Homo sapiens: one gene and its partner. The protein of the gene in region 2 interacts with the protein of the main gene of each other region in a biochemical or structural test. Each region holds a gene or a part of one and is shown on either strand. Other genes may lie near its edges.

What was found. The genes of interacting proteins can lie anywhere in the genome.
Region 1: the proteins of TRIB2 (region 2) and ACACA form a complex in vitro, tested with the Homo sapiens proteins (one study listed by BioGRID).

The regions. Positions count from the first base shown.
Region 1 is NC_000017.11:37,400,083-37,403,836, forward strand, and holds part of ACACA (acetyl-CoA carboxylase 1), read right to left. Parts: intron 1-3,754. UniProt on the Homo sapiens protein: Cytosolic enzyme that catalyzes the carboxylation of acetyl-CoA to malonyl-CoA, the first and rate-limiting step of de novo fatty acid biosynthesis.
Region 2 is NC_000002.12:12,719,893-12,723,646, forward strand, and holds part of TRIB2 (tribbles homolog 2), read left to right. Parts: intron 1-3,367; coding exon 3,368-3,660; intron 3,661-3,754.

The DNA.
Region 1 (3,754 bases), on a different chromosome or scaffold from region 2:
CTTAGCAATTTTCAAGCATATATATATTTTTGTTTGTTTGTTTGTTTTTGTTTTTGAGACAGGGTCTTGCTCTGTTGCCCAGGCTGGAGTGCAGTGATGCAATCTTGGCTCACTGCAACCTCTGCCTCCCGGGTTCAAGTGATTCTCATGCCTCAGCCTCCTGAGTAGTTGGGATTACAGGCATGCACCACCACGCCTGGCTAATTTTTGTATTTTTAGTAGAGATGGGGTTTCACCATGTGGGCCAGGCTGGTCTCAAACCCCTGACCTCAGATGACCCACCTGCCTCAGCCTCCCAAAGTGCTGGGATTACAGGTGTGAGCCACAGTGCCTGGCCTCAAGTATATATTTTTAACTATAGTCACCATATAGTATAATAGATCTCCTGCACTTATTCCTGCTGTCTAACTGAAATTTTGTATCCTTTGGCCAAAATCTTCCAATTCTTTCTCTCTCATCCCCTGGTAACCACCATTCTGCTACTTCTACAAGCTTGACTTTTTTAGATGCCACACATAAGTGAGATTAAGCAGTATTTGTTTTTCTGTGCCTGGCTTATTTCACTTAGCATAATGTCCTCCAGGTCCATCTATGTTGCTGCAAATGACAGGATTTCCTTATTTTTTAAGGCTGAACAGTATTCCATTGTGTGTGTGTCTGTGTGTGTGTGTGTGTGTGTATCTATATCTCACATTTTCTTTATTCATTCATCCATTGGCATACATGTAGGCTGTTTCCATGTCTTGGCTATGGTGAATAATGCTGCAATGGATATGGGAGTACAGATACCTTGACATGCAGATATCATTTCCTTTGGATATATACCCAGAAGTGGATTATTGGATCATATGGTAGTTCCATTCAAAAATTTTTAAGGAACCTCCATACTATTTTCCAAAATGGCTGTACTAATTTACATTCCCACTGACAGTGTACAGGGTTTTTCTCCACATCCTTGCCAATGCTTATCTCGCTTTTTGATAATAATCATTCTGACAGGTGTGAGGTGATATCTCATGGTAGTTTTAATTCACATTTCCCTGATGATTAGTGATGTTGAACATTTTTTTCACATACCAGTTAGCTATTTGCATGTCTTTTTCTTTTGTTTTTCTTTTTTTTTTTTTTTTGAGACAGAGTCTTGCTGTTGCCCAGGCTGGAGGGCAATGGTGTGATCTTGGCTCACTGCAACCTCCGCCTCCTGGGTTCAAGTGATTCTCCTGCCTCAGCCTCCTGAGTAGCTGGGAATACAAGCGCCCGCCACCACGCCCAGCTAATTTTTGTTTTTTTAGTAGAGACAGGGTTTCACCAGGTTGGCCCGGCTGGTCTCGAACTCCTGACCTCAGGTGATCCACCCGCCTCGGCCTCCCATGCTACTTGCATGTCTTCTTTTGAGCAATGTCTTTTCAGGCCCTTGTCCACTTATCTGATGTAGGGGTCGTGAATATTTTCTCCCATTCCGTAGGTTGTCTCTTTACCTTTTTTTTTTTTTTTCCAGACGAGGTCTCACTCTGTTGCCCAGGCTGGAGTAAAGTGGCACAATCACGGTCACTACAGCCTCAACTGTCTGAGCTCAAGTGATTCTCCTACCTCAGCCTCCCAAGTAGCTGGGACCACAGGCGTGTGCTATCATGCCCAGCTAATTTTTTGATTTTTTTGTAGAGTTGAACTCTCACTAAGTCACCCAGTTTAGTCTCGAACTCCTGAGCCCAAGCAATCTTCCCACCTAGGACTGTCAAAGTGTTGGGATTACAGGCATGAGCCACCGCACCAGGCCAGAAACTCTACGTTTGATTCTAACCACAGCAGCTTAGCAGCTGAGGACAAACTGTTGGGATATTTTGGTCTCAGTCAATGGCAGCCAGGTTACCAACCCTGACAAGATACAAGTTTTCTTCGTTGGGTTCCTGGTACAAAAGTCAACCTTTTCAGTTACTTATGAATGAAAGGGCATGAAGATTGTGCTATTAGTTTATCCTGAAGGTCAATCTTCAAAAATACTGGTTCAACATGGATTTGGATATTATTAATATAAATTTATGGCTTAAAGAGGACAAAAGGTGTTTTTTTGGGTTCCTTTACAGAGATATTTAGTGAGGGAACAAGGCACTTAGTCATCTTTGCTATGACAGGTTAAATACAAGGTGTACTGGGAACATGTAAGAGGGTGACTTAACTCAGCCATTGGGGGGTCAGGAGAAGTGTTCCTAAGGAAGTGATGTCTAAGTGAGGTAGGCAGTACCTTGGCAAAAAAAACCTTGAAGTTAAGAGTGCATATGAGAAATGAAGGTATGTCCACCTGGCTGGCAAATGGAGTCTAAGATAGGGCAGTGATGATAAAGATATAGGAAGATGCTAGATCTGGAAGGGCCTTCTAAAAAGAATGACAATATAAATTTATTGTACAAATGGAGACTTTACTGAGAGTGAAACCAGGCAATATTAATACTTAGGTAGGGACAACAGATATAAACCAGGCTATTCTCAGCAAATCAGAAATTATGGTCACCCTACTTGTAAGTCACATTCAGGTGCTTAGACTTTCAGTGAAAGCATAGAGTATGTATCTTCTACATTTTGCCTAAGTGACTTCATTCTTTTTTTTTTTGAGACAGAGTCTCGCTCTGTTGCCCAGGCTGGAGTACAGCGGCACGATCTCAGCTCACTGCAAGCTCCACCTCCCAGGTTCACGCCATTCTTCTTCCTCAGCCTCCTGAGTAGCTGGGACTACAGGCGCCCACCACCACGCCCGGCTAATTTTTTGTATTTTTAGTTGAGATGGGGTTTCACCATGTTAGCCAGGATGGTCTCGATCTCCTGACCTCGTGATCCGCCCGCCTCAGCCTCCCAAAGTGCTGGGATTACAGGCGTGAGCCACTGCACCCAGCCAGTGACTTCATTTTTACTTTTGCCTTTACTTACTCATTTCACAAGTATTTGAGGATACACTTCAGAGCACTGAGGTTACAAAGACAACAGTGTCTGTCCTCAAGGTCTGTCTAGGTAAGACACACAGCCAAATAAACAATTCTAATACAGTTATACAGTTTTAGTTCTGACACCTCCAATGAGCTGTAGACTTGTATTTGTCATTTCCAGTCAGAATGCAAAACACAGATCCAAAACAGAACTTTCAATTTCTCCTCCAAATCTATTCTTCCTTCAGCTGGTCGTGTAAGTGATGCCACTATCACATCCACTTAAGACAAAAACCCAGAGGAGTACTGCCTTAATCAGTAATCAGTGTTACCCTTCTTCTCACTGTGCATGTTAATTTTGCCACATCTTTTTTTTTTTTTTTTTTTTTGGTACAGTGTCTCACTCTGTCACCTAGGCTGGAGTGCAGTGGTGTGATACTGGGTCAATGCAGCCTCAACCCTCTGGGCTGAAGTGATCCTCTCACCTCAGCCTCCTAAGTAGCTGGGACTACAGGCATGCGCCACTACACCTGGCTAATTTTTGCAATTTTTGTAGAGACGAAGTTTCACCATGTTGCCCAGTTCTCATGCCTCCTTGAACTCCTGAACTCAAGTGATCTGCCTACCTTGGCTTCCCAAAATGCAGGGATCCCAGGTGTGAGGCACCGTGTCCTGCCCTCTCCACATCTTTCTTAAGCACACTGACTAAATTGGTCTAAGTAGAGCCTAACATCAACTGAAGGGAGAGGGTAATTTCCAGGTAGTTGAATGCTATGATTTTTGTTTTTTTGTTTTTGAGACAGACTCTTGCTCTGTTGAACAGGCTGGAGGGCAGT
Region 2 (3,754 bases):
GCAACTGTGCCCAGTTAACCAAAATTCAGTAGCTGGATTGAATTCTCAGAAGTCTGCAAGGTTGCACAATAGGATAGTCATCCTTTGAAATGAATGAATTCCACAGAACTGCCACTCTTGTATGAAATATGCACAATCACCCAGCAGTGAATATTTTCATTCCTTTTGCTCAACTTCAGTACAGCATTTTAATATTTTTCAAAGGCTGGAGATGCTTTTAAGTATAGGGACTCTGCAGCCAAATTCTGCAGGGGCATCTGGCTGTTACTTCTTTGTTTAAAATCAGAGGTGACTCTGGCCTCTGCTCATTCTTTCTCCAGATTTTGCAAGACATATTTCACTTTGGGCTGACCTTACAGTGTCATTTGCAGACTTGTGCTCTGGCCTCAAATTGGACTTAATCTGCTGGTTTAGTTATTGCAAAGATTGAATCAGCCCCTCACCAATTACAGTGTGGCTGCAAGTGGATTTAAGTGCAGTATCATTGTTCTGCTTGACAGAGGTCATCCCTTTAAGACACAGCAGCTTCTGTTTTCCTGACTTTTTACCATAGATGATGTGGGTGACTTCTTATGCAAGCATAGTTGTGTATCTCCGAAGAAGCTCCAAGAGAGTTTTATAAGGCTGCTTCTCTGAACTGCCCTGAGAGATATATATGCTGTGGTCTCTTAGCTTACTTTAAGGCTCAGTGAAATCTACACATTGAATCTAGTTCCTTTTGATGTCTTAGAATAGAAGGCTCATGTTTCCTAGCTGTGTGTTGACCAATGAAAAAATTCTTTGCAAAAACAGATCAAATGTAAAGATGCTATTTATTATAGGGGACTGCGTAGAGAATTCCATAGGACACTATTTGGAGGAATAGAGATTCCAGAGTCATTTAAACAAAATAATCAAGGCTGCTTATTGTCTCCATGTACCTACTTTTGCTAGATGAATGAAGGCACTTTAAGGAGTCTTTAACTGTATGTTTTCATGGAGATACTGGTAGCTACTGTGCAGATTGACATAATTACTATCTTGGCAGAATGGGTACTTTTTTTTTGCAAATGTTATTAATGATGGCCTAATCTTACTGCCTTATCTGAACTGTCACATTACATAACCAAGGCTCCAAATTAAACATGTAAAGAAGCTGGCACCAGGCTTGTGGCTTGATTTTGCACGTGAAGATGATGGTTTAAATACCAGTCCAAGCCCCTAAATGCCCCTGATAGCTACTAATAAAAGTTTGGCTCCTTCTCGTGTGGGAAAACATAAGTACTTATTTTATTTTTCATACTCTGTCCACCATCTTGGAATTTGGTCTCTTCTACAAAAGGTATGGCTACATTTGAAGCTGCCACAAATATGTTAGTTTTTTAAAAATTCTGTCTCCAGTTTTTCAGCAGTGGAGCAGGATAATAGGCTAAAAGTGCTGAGCAAAAGTCACCTTTTATGTTTTTGTAAATGCACCTGGAAACAGGAAGTAGATTATAAATAATCATAACTCTGTGAGCACTGGCGACAGAAGCTGCAACCTGGTATTTCAGAACACAGCATCTTCATTATATGATGCAGTGTTTACGTTAGCCACTGCAAAGCTTATTACTCCTCGAAATTTTTGAGGCTTCCCTGGGTTTCTGTTGCCTGCATTCAGGGTGTTAAAGTTGATTCAAGCATTTCAGATTCCTAATTGAACAGGCCTCTTAGGTCACTGCTCTTGGGTCATCATTTGACAGTATCAGTGTGTGATTTGTGGTCTCTGGAGATGTTGAAGTATTCTTTCTTAAATTCTAGGTTATAGTGGCAGCAGCTGTGCCGCTTTTCTGAGATGCCTCGTTATGGTTCATTCACAACATTACTGTTAACTTTGCTTCCTTGGCCGTGTTAGCAGCAACTCTTGAGGTTTTACATCCCTGTTTGACTCACAGATTTTGTTTCAATTTTTTGAAGCTTAGAGCAACTTAACTCATGGATTCTTAAATAGCAGTCTGTGGCTTTGGATGGGCTTCAGAAAGCCCGTGAATCCCCTTAAAATGAATCCGGTATCGTGCATGCATTTGAGAACGGGCATTGTCAGCTAAGAGGGAACAGAGCTTTTATCAGATTTTATGTGACATCAGGACCCAAAAAAGGTTAACACTGTTCTAAATCAACATCTTCATTTTATGAAGAGGAGGGAGGTCCAGTAACCCTAAGCTCTTTATCCATCTCATCCAGATTATTGGTGGCAGGGCCAGGATTAGTGCCTCAAGGTTGCCGACTTCCAGTCCAGCATATTTCCTACCACACTGCAAAATGATGATGAAAGAAAGTATGTCTAACTAGTGAAAAAGCGATTTAGGCAGCTAAATCATTGTGAACTGATAGCATGCAGTGTATTGTTAGGGCGTTCCTGCCTCAGATGCTTTCCAGCGAAGCTCACCCACGCATGCCCCTGGCTCACGCACACACTGAATAGATTCATCTTACCCACATCCCAGGCAGATAGAAAAACCACATTCCAGACCCAGGGACTTGTATTCCTGATTTAGTGGAGGTCTTGAAATGAATGAAAGCGCCTTTTATATAACCTCAAAAATTCTCTGTAGTGTTAATTGCTGTTAGGTCTGTTTCAAAAGGTATTGATGGTGCCTTTTCTTTTTAAGCAACCGCACAATGAGTTGGCATTTTGCAGGCTAATTTTGATTCATAGAAAATCATTGCATAACTGGTTCATTGAGTTAGATATCTGTGGAGGGAAGAGAGGAAGAAGCAAGGCTGCTTCCCTATTCAGAAGGATTCTATCATATTCCTACCTCTGCCACTGGGGGCTTGAGTTTTGGCTCATTCTCTGAGCCTCAGTTTCCATATCTGTAAAATGAAAGTATTGAATTAGAGACCACTGGGCAAAAGCTAGCTGTTTATTCTCTTAGTTGCTCATGTGTTGTATAATGCCTGTTTATGTGCATTTCTTTTTTTTTATTTTTGAAGGCAAATAAAGTGTTGTTGATGTCATTGAGGTGGATCACTTTCTCTCCAATTTTGCCTTAGTTCTATAAACACGCAATTGGGCTAGAGACAAAAGTAATGAAAATTATTATTTCTGTACTGCATTACGTTTTGCAAAGCACTATCACCTTCATTTTCTCATATAATCCTCCTAACACTGTGAGTCAAGTATCAGTTTCCCATGTTGTACGTAAAGATTTGGAGGCTCCGAGAGGTTAAGTGACTTGTTTAGTGCCACACAGCTGGTAGGAGGCAGGGCCAATGTGGTCTGGGTCCAAGTTCAGCATATTTTCTGTCATCTCAAAAGCCCATACCTGTGGGAGGTGCAGCATTATGTGTTTTGGTTGTACAAGAGGCACCTCTGACTTTGGTCTTACTGTTAATCCTGTCGTAGGTGTTTGATATCAGCTGCTACCAGGAATCCCTGGCACCGTGCTTTTGCCTGTCTGCTCATAGTAACATCAACCAAATCACTGAAATTATCCTGGGTGAGACCAAAGCCTATGTGTTCTTTGAGCGAAGCTATGGGGACATGCATTCCTTCGTCCGCACCTGCAAGAAGCTGAGAGAGGAGGAGGCAGCCAGACTGTTCTACCAGATTGCCTCGGCAGTGGCCCACTGCCATGACGGGGGGCTGGTGCTGCGGGACCTCAAGCTGCGGAAATTCATCTTTAAGGACGAAGAGAGGTAGGTCTCATCCTGTCCAGACCTGGGTACTGTGATGGACTGCTCCTAACAACAGCTTCCTAGAAAAGTCTTGAATGGACGTTTTTTTGCCGTC